Linked DNA regions of Homo sapiens. The protein of the gene in region 1 interacts with the protein of each later gene in a pairwise test. Each region holds a gene or a part of one and is shown on either strand. Other genes may lie near its edges.

Region 1 (4,036 bases):
TTGGTGATGGGAATGTAAAATGATTCATTCAGCTGCTGTGGAAAACTTTTTGGCAGTTCCTGGAAAAGTTAAACATAGAATTACCCTATGACCCAGAAAGTCCACTCCTAGGTATGTATCCAAAAGAACTGGGAACAGGTACTCAAATATGTGTACAGGCATGTTCAGAGCAGCACTATTCACAATAGCCAAAAGGTGGAAGTAACCCAAATATCTATCAAGGGATGAATGAATAAACAAATTATAATATACACATACAATGGGATATTAATCAGCCATAAAAAGGAATGAAGTACTGATCCACGCCTCAACATGGATGAATCTTAAATACAGGCTAAGTCAAAGAAACGACACAAAAGGCCGCATATTGTATGGTTGCATTTATATGAAATACCCAGAAAAAAGTAAACTCACAGAGATAGAAAATAGCTGAGTCGTTGCCAGGGTCTGGAGGAAGGAGGGACTGGGGAATTACTGCTTAATGGAGTATGGATGTTTCAGAACTAGATAGAAGTGGTTGCTCAACATTATGAATGTAATAAATGCCACCAAATCGTTCGCTTTTAAGTGGTTTATGTTATGCGAATTTCACCTCAAAAAAAAAAAAAGTTAAAAAGCCTTCTCTGCCTTTCTCTGGGGTTGGAGTCTTCCCAATGGATCCAGGGCAAAAGAAACATCCAGCCACTCTGTTTGCGGGAGGAGCAAAGGGTGGCTTGTCCCGACAGTTTGAGCTGTTGTGCATGCATTTACACACGCATTAATTCCAAATGAGTCAGCACAGTGTCCGAGACAGGTCCTGGGCTCCAGTGAGCACAGTCGCTCTCCTGGGGGAGGCACGTTCCACAAATTAACAGAAGTTCTGATAAACTCAGCATAGGGGGATTCGCTGTCCCAAGTATCAAGGAGTCCTAAAAGAAAAGGGCCTATTTCAGTCGGGGGACCTGGACTGAACTAACTCGTGTTCATGGCCGCCAAATCCCGTGTGACAAATGTATTCTTTTGTTGTTCATAGAAATAAAACAGTTTTTCGGGCCGCTTCAGGAGCTCCTCTGCAAAGGTGGGGAAAAAAGGCAACTAAATCAGCACGAGGACGTCAGCCCGAGGATGTCAGGAGCGGGGTCGGTGCGGACGGGCAGGTGGGCGGGGGGGCACCCCGCGCCCCGCCCCAGTCCCCTGGAGGCCGGCGGCCGCAGCTCGGGGAAGTGGGGACTGGCGCGGGGCCGCGCTCCCGCCCTCCTCGGCGGCGCCGACGGACCGGCAGGCGGCGGGCGGTCCGCGAGGGGGCGGCGGCGTCCGGGCTTTGTGGCCGCGGCGCGCGCGGCGGGGCCTGGCCGGCCGGGGGCGCGCCGCCGCCGCCGCCGCCGCCCGGCGTTCGGGAGCCCGCGGCCCTCCCGGCCGCCCTGCTTGCGAGAGGAGCCCAGGCCGCCCGCCCTCGCGCCTCGCCGGCCCCTCCCCCGGTCGCCGCGGCTGCCGCGCCGCCGCTGCAGGTAGGAGGCTCCCCTTCCGGGCGGGCCGCAGCCGGGCGGGGGCGGGGGTGGGGGGCGCGGGCCGGGCGTAGAGGGGGCCGGGGGCCGGCATGGAGGGTTTTCGGGCCGAGCCGCTGCGACCCCGGCCTTGCAGGCTGGGCGCCGGGCGGCCGCCTCTGCGCGCCGCGATGGGACTCGGTGAGTAGGGCCGGCCTGCTGCCTACAAAGCCCCGGGGCGCGGGCCTCTGGGGTACTCAGTGGCGCGCCCACGGCTGGGAGCGGGGTGGGCTTTGGACTCCCGGGCTCGGGGAGCTGCTCGGGGGGAATCCAGGTGACCTGCAGTACCGCGGTCTTCCCATCCCGGCGTCCCCACTGTGTGCTGATCACTGTGCTCGGCGCTTTTCCATACTTGTCTCCTTTAAGACCTCCAGTGCCCCGCCCGTCCAGAGTGTAACGGGAGGGATCCCTCACTTGCAGGATGAAGGCCGAGCATCACATCCTTGCTTGACTGACCTTGGGAAAGCTCCTTTACTCCGAGCCGGGGCTACTGTTTCTGTAAATTAGAGGCGGGGGTCGGGGGGGCGTGGTATAATATCTACCCTCAGGTACTATTGTGAAAGATAATGTATGTAAATGATAACAGCTAAATTTTGAGCACTCTGTATGTACCAGGCCCTAGGTACTAAACAGTTGGCATGAATTATCATTGAATCATCACCCTGGCGCTGTGAGGTAGTTACTGTAAATTGCATGAATAATCTTTATTTAGGAGTACGAAACAGTGAAGAATTTAGTCTCCCTATTCCGATTCAGGAGGTTGGGTATTTCTTAGGCGTGATAACATTTAACATTACAGACGTTCCTGCAGTATCGAGGAGAGTAGTTATAGGATGCAGGGATATATTTGTCATACATTTAAAACTGGAGGTAGGATAATATCAGGGCCAGAGAGTGTGCCTTTCAGCATGTCAGAGCAGATGATTGTATTCCAAGGAAATTGCTGAATATTAATTAAAAAACATAGTTTCTGAGTTAGGATTGAGGATGGCTGTGGGAGTCCAGGGCCAGAGAGAGACATGGGATGGACAAGGGGGAGAAGAAGGATTCTGAAGTCCTGGAGGAAGATGTAGAGGAAGGCACCAGGGTTCACCATCCCTCCCCTGCAGCATTGCTGGGCCAGATTTCATCCCTCCCGTAGAGACCCGGGCTAGGGGACAAAGGCTGCTGGGGCAGGGGGTGGGGAGGGATGTTATAGGTTGTCTCTTTTTACTCCCAGGCCGCCAAAAATATTCAGATTGATGGAGGGTCAGGTGATTGGGCCTCCTAAAATGCCATTATCCCTTCTCACAAAATTCTTGTGTTTCAGGGCATGGGGATGCTTGCCAGCCCTAATGGTTGATGAGATGCTTAAAATACAAAGGTCTCACTGATATAATGGAAGAGTGCATTTTCAACACCATTCACTGGGTTAGAGAAGTAATGGGCCTGAGGAGATTATTTTGGGTTTAGAATGGGGAGAACTAAAAAGGCTTTGGATCCTGAAGAAGGAAGAGAGGCAGGAAGGGCCCAGGCACTGCACCTGTGGGGAAAGGCAGGAGAAGAAGGAGCTGAGGACTTCACCCCACCATCTGCAGAATACCCAACAGGCTGTTCAGTTCTCAGCTACCAAGGGGGCACCCTTTCCTCTCCCAGTTGGTGATGATTTGTTAACGTATTGTGGAAGATCAAGGGCTGGACTCAGGCACTCCTGTCCTGAGTGAGTAGGAAAGACGTCTGGGAGAAGGGTGGTTTATTTTGTTTTTAACCAGGCATTGAAGCAGAGAGTAGGTGGGTACGTAGCGATGGTGAAGGTAGGGAACATCATGCATACTTGGAAGAGCAATTGCTTTGGAGAGATAGACAGTTTGGGGTTTGAATCCTAGCTCTGCCATTTCTTAGCTTTGTACATTTTTTGTGAGGATAAAATAATGTTTTTTCACATATCTGGCGTGCAGTTCAACAAGCACTAGTACCGTATTCCCTGTCCGTGATAACATTCATTCAACAAATGTCTGCTGAGCACCAGTCATGTGCTGAGTCATATGTTACATCCTGGGGATACAGCGATGAGTCAGAAATTATGTATTCCCCTAGGAATTTCCCAGTCCAGTGTGGGAGATGGACGCAAAGAGCAAATTGCAAAAAATATGGGAAGTGCTACAGTACAGTCATGTACAACTGTCAGTGAGCTCATAGAAGAGTAACTCATTCTGAGCCAGTGGGAACTCAGGGCCAATCTATATCTAACAAGGTGAGTATGAGACCTTATGACACAGGTTTTTGTTTTTTGTTTTTGTTTTTTTTTTGGGGGGGGACAGTCTCGCTCTGTTGCCCAGGCTGGAGTGCAGTGGCATGATCTCGGCTCACTGCAGTCTCCACCTCTTGGGTTCAAGCGATTCTCTTGTCTCAGCCTCCCAAGTAGCTGAGATTACAGGCACCTACCACCACGCCCAGCTAATTTTTGTAGTTTTAGTAGAGGTGGGGTTTCACCATGTTGGCCAGGCTGGTCTCAAACTCCTGACCTCAGGTGA
Region 2 (4,299 bases), on another chromosome or scaffold:
GTTTGAACATAAAGTGATTTCCTTTCTTAGAACGATAAACTTCAAAATCCTTTGCTAAATACAAGGAGGATACAGAGTCTGGTTGGCCTAAACATGAACAGATATAAAATATCTCCCATGATTGTCTCCAAATCCCATATTCTGCCCCTACTCACAGTAAAAAATAAATATACTTTCAGAAAATAAATAATATTGTGATGACGTTATTGTGTCTTTAGTTTTCTGAGCTTTAAGTTATTGCTGCATTCAGCAATAGAAGATAAGTGATTTAAAATGCAACCGCTATGTTAAGGTTAATTTTTTTTCTGGCTAGTAAAGGCATTAGCCAACTACAAATTCTTTATCTGTAAAATGAAAATACATACCCTACATTGGCTTCCTGATAGCATTATTAAGACTAATTCATATTTCAAACTAATACTGAAAATTTGTGGCATAGTTGCATAGAAATAATAATGGGAATAAAAAATGTGTGCTCTTCTTAGATGGCAAATGCTATTAATTTTGTTAAAAAAAATTTAAATCCACTAATAGTTGGATTGCATAAGGTCAGATAGAGTCTTTAACATAATATACATTGTTGTTTCAGTTCTTAATTAAAAATAGAATGTACATCTCAAATCTTCACCAAGGCAGATAAGTAGATTTGTTCCACATTCTGAAACTTATTGTGATTTTTTGTGTCTAAAATAAGATTCCTTATTCACTTAGTCCCAGGGAACATTACATAAGTATTGTGCTATGCAAAAGAAAAGCAAATAAACAAAACAAAATCACGTAATGAAGACCTTAACGGTATTTAAAACCCCTCCCCCCTCCAAAATACATGGAAGATGAAGGAAAAGAAGGCAGGAGGTATGTAATTTTTTAAAAAGTAAACATAGTATGGTGGGCTTTTCTTTCCAGAAAATTCCCTCAATGCGTGACTTTTTGTACTTTTTCTCTTCTCCGTCTGCCAGCTGGAGCGATATGGCTCCTGCATGAGCTGCTTGTACTGAAAGCTGTTCAGCAAGAAATTCGTGTGAAATCGTAGCATGTGATGCTCCTGGTTGGAGCAGTTAATAACTGGGTAAGCGGCATTTCCCTAAATGGCTGTTTTCCTCGGCCCACCCGTCTCTCCCCCATCCCATTGCTCCCCGGTCCTCAGCAATGCCCCAACTCCCTCCCGGAACCTTTTGCTCCGAGCCCCCCGCCAGCGCCGCAATCCCGTCACTGTATTGTCCTCCTCGGCACCGAGCGATCTGATCCGCCGAGCCAGAAAGACACCCGATGGGGGAGAGAAGCAAAGTGGAAAAAAACCGACGTCCCTGCTCTCCAGAAGGGAGACCCCAGCGGCGCCGACGAGCCCTGCGCCCTCCGCGGCCGCCCGGCGCGAGCTCCCGGGCGGGGCGCTGTCCAGCGCGCACAGAGTTAAAGGCATCATCGCAGCCATTAGAGGGAAAAGTTGCGGCGCCGCGAGCCCGGCGAAGTCCTCAGCCCGCCCCGCTTGCCCACTCCCCACTTCCCGAGCCGGCTCCGTGTTTAGGGAGGGCAGTGATCACGCAAGCCGGAGCGGCGGGCTGACGTTGGACGAGCTGCCAGGTAGCTGAAAGCAGGCAGCCAGGCAGCCGAGACACTTCCCAGCGATTCCAGCCTGGGCTCCGCAGGAAGCCTCGCTGAATCCCAGCCAGCTGGTTCTAACCTTCCAGAATCGCAATCCCTTCTCCCCACAGCCAGCCCTCGCCAAGCAAGCAGCAGGATGTTTGCAGTGTCGCGCCCAGGGCTCTGAGACTGAGCCTGCCATCCACTCGCACGCCTTTCTTTCAGGGCTTTTCGGCTGTTGGCTACACTGATGTGACCCCCCTCCCTTTTTGGAATGATGGGGATCTTTTTGGTGTATGTTGGATTTGTTTTCTTTTCCGTTTTATATGTACAACAAGGGCTTTCTTCTCAAGGTAAGTCTTGCTCAATGGCAAATATACATTTGCTTGCGTGTGTGTGTGTTTCCTACACTCAAAAAGAATGGACAGGCAGATAGAATAAGCTTCCTAGCAAGTAACAGTGGGCTTAGGCTGTATAAATAGTGTTCTGTTTGACGATTTTTTTTAAAGTTTATTAAACTGTAGACTAGCTAGGCTGGAGAGAAAATCTAGCTGGTGCCTGACAATGAGGTGGGCTCCTCGGTGAGCACAAACACAGGGTCGTGTGGTGTGTGTGTGTGGGTGTGTGTGTGCTTTCTATCTGTGTGCATGCACAGGGTAGCCACTCATGCATACATAATCATCGCAAACAAACACAGGGCTGGATACTGGGACTCTCCATTGCCAGTCCCTCTTCCTTGTGTAGTCAGACTGGGCTTAGAGTTTCCCTTTTGTAGGTCCGTGTGACTCCTTTTGTATGTGTGTTTATCAAAGGACAGACTCCTCTGAGGACCCATAAAAAGCCACAACTTGCATGACAAGCAGCAGCAGCCTGCTGAACCCGATTGTTCAGGACTTCGTAGGCTGCAGTGGTCGTTTCAGCACCATGAACAGATCACATCTCTGGTGCCAAAAGACTGCATCACTTCTGCAAGCAGAAATGCCATACTCCTTCTGCCAGCTAGAATAGAAAAGCCCTTTTCCGATCAGAATGTCTCCTTAATAGCTTCCCTGTTTTAGGTACAAATATAGTTTCATTTCACTAGAGATCATTTTTGGGATTTCATAAAATGTTGAAAAGAGACAGTGTCTCTCTTTAAACCGGGGGTGAGGTGAGGGGTGGGGGGAGGAGTGCATCCACCCCAAATCATTTCTGCATTCCCCATGGCCCTCTTCTCCATAAGTGTGCATTGTGGTTGTGCATTTCCACTGGCCATACAAATCTTCCCAGGACTGCTTTTAGGGAACCATCAGCTCTTTGCAAAGTGCCCCTTAGATAAGATAAGAACAACCACGTTGGTAACAAGATAAGAGCATTGCATGTTCAAGAAATGCCTTTAGGAGGAAGGAAACATTATATTTTTGTGAGTTTCACCAGGGTTGCATGAATCTTGCAAACTAGCAGTGTCAAGGTTGGTAATGAAAAGGCTGAGAAACATCTCCATAGTGACTTCTAAATAATATTTAATCTGAACTAAGCCTGGATGTGTGATCATTACATCTTAAGATGTATGGCAATTCAAAATACAGTGACTTGATGGGAACAAATAAAGGTTAATTTGGAGAGAAGGAAACATATACAGTTTATAAAGTGTGCAACTTGTTTCACTGCTGCAGGCGTGTTTCACTGGTGTTGCTAATAACCGTTTTGATGTATCAGGAATGTGCATTTTGACAGATAATCATGATCTACTCTGTTACATGAAACATCCAGTTAGTGGTAGATTGTTTAGAAACTTAGAGGCAAGAGACTCTCCTCATTTATCAACTTGACAGATTGCCTAAATTGTATCTCACTGACTCTCTCAGTAAATGTTGTGGAATACTGCAATCTGACAAAAGGTATTTGGATCTACCTGCGGGGATCTTGGCTAAGAGTTATTGGCAAGCTTGTTAACCTTTCCATTATCTGGATTTGATCAACAACATAGTGATTTAGGTATGATACCAAAAGTTAGACAGGAAAGAGGCAAAGGAAGGGGGCTGGGGGAACCAGACGAAGCCGAGGATGTAAGAGAGGGGTTTTGTTGCTATTTAAGTCCAGGAAAAATGTAGCGAGCTCTCAAGGAAAGAGACTCAGGCAAGAGGGGTGTGGATATTCCAACAGGATGCCTTTCTGTTTTGCAGCAAAATTTACCGAGTTTCCGCGGAACGTGACGGCGACCGAGGGGCAGAATGTGGAGATGTCCTGCGCCTTCCAGAGCGGCTCCGCCTCGGTGTATCTGGAGATCCAATGGTGGTTCCTGCGGGGGCCGGAGGACCTGGATCCCGGGGCCGAGGGGGCCGGCGCGCAGGTAGCGGAGCCCGCCGACCCCGCGTCTCCCCTTCGCTCGCCCGGTCCTCAGGGTGTCCGGCCCGGGGCTGGGGGCCGAGGTGCTGCCTGGACACCCCTGGGGACCTGCCCGGTTCTGTGGAAGCGAGTGACCCCCAGGGCTTCTAGGGAGGGAAAGGGAATTTGTCCTGGGGACGCGAAGTTAAAACCCAGAAGGAAGTCCTGCTGCCCAGTTTCTTCCTGTTAAACCGGGAAGCGCCTCCTCCTGTAAGTTCTGGTACTTAGGCAGATGCCCGCCTTGCCCCTACCACGCTGCCACATCCCGGGACATCCGGGAGCCCCTTTCCAGGACGAAAGGAGGGGGAGGGGAATCGGTGGGCGGCCTCCACCCCCCACCCCACCCCCTCT

The links. Proteins that work in one complex are often made in the same cells at the same time.
Region 2: the proteins of MSANTD3 (region 1) and VSTM2A interact in a two-hybrid assay, tested with the Homo sapiens proteins (one large-scale study listed by BioGRID and IntAct).

Annotation. Positions count from the first base shown.
Region 1 is NC_000009.12:100,425,907-100,429,942, forward strand, and holds the start of MSANTD3 (myb/SANT-like DNA-binding domain-containing protein 3), read left to right. Parts: upstream 1-1,236; 5' UTR 1,237-1,487; intron 1,488-1,522; exon of another isoform or gene 1,523-1,664; intron 1,665-3,707; exon of another isoform or gene 3,708-3,756; intron 3,757-4,036.
Region 2 is NC_000007.14:54,540,876-54,545,174, forward strand, and holds the start of VSTM2A (V-set and transmembrane domain-containing protein 2A isoform 2 precursor), read left to right. Parts: upstream 1-1,499; 5' UTR 1,500-1,855; coding exon 1,856-1,934; intron 1,935-3,746; coding exon 3,747-3,913; intron 3,914-4,299. UniProt on the Homo sapiens protein: Plays a role in the regulation of the early stage of white and brown preadipocyte cell differentiation. Promotes adipogenic commitment of preadipocytes by increasing gene expression of the transcription factor PPARG in a BMP4-dependent signaling pathway.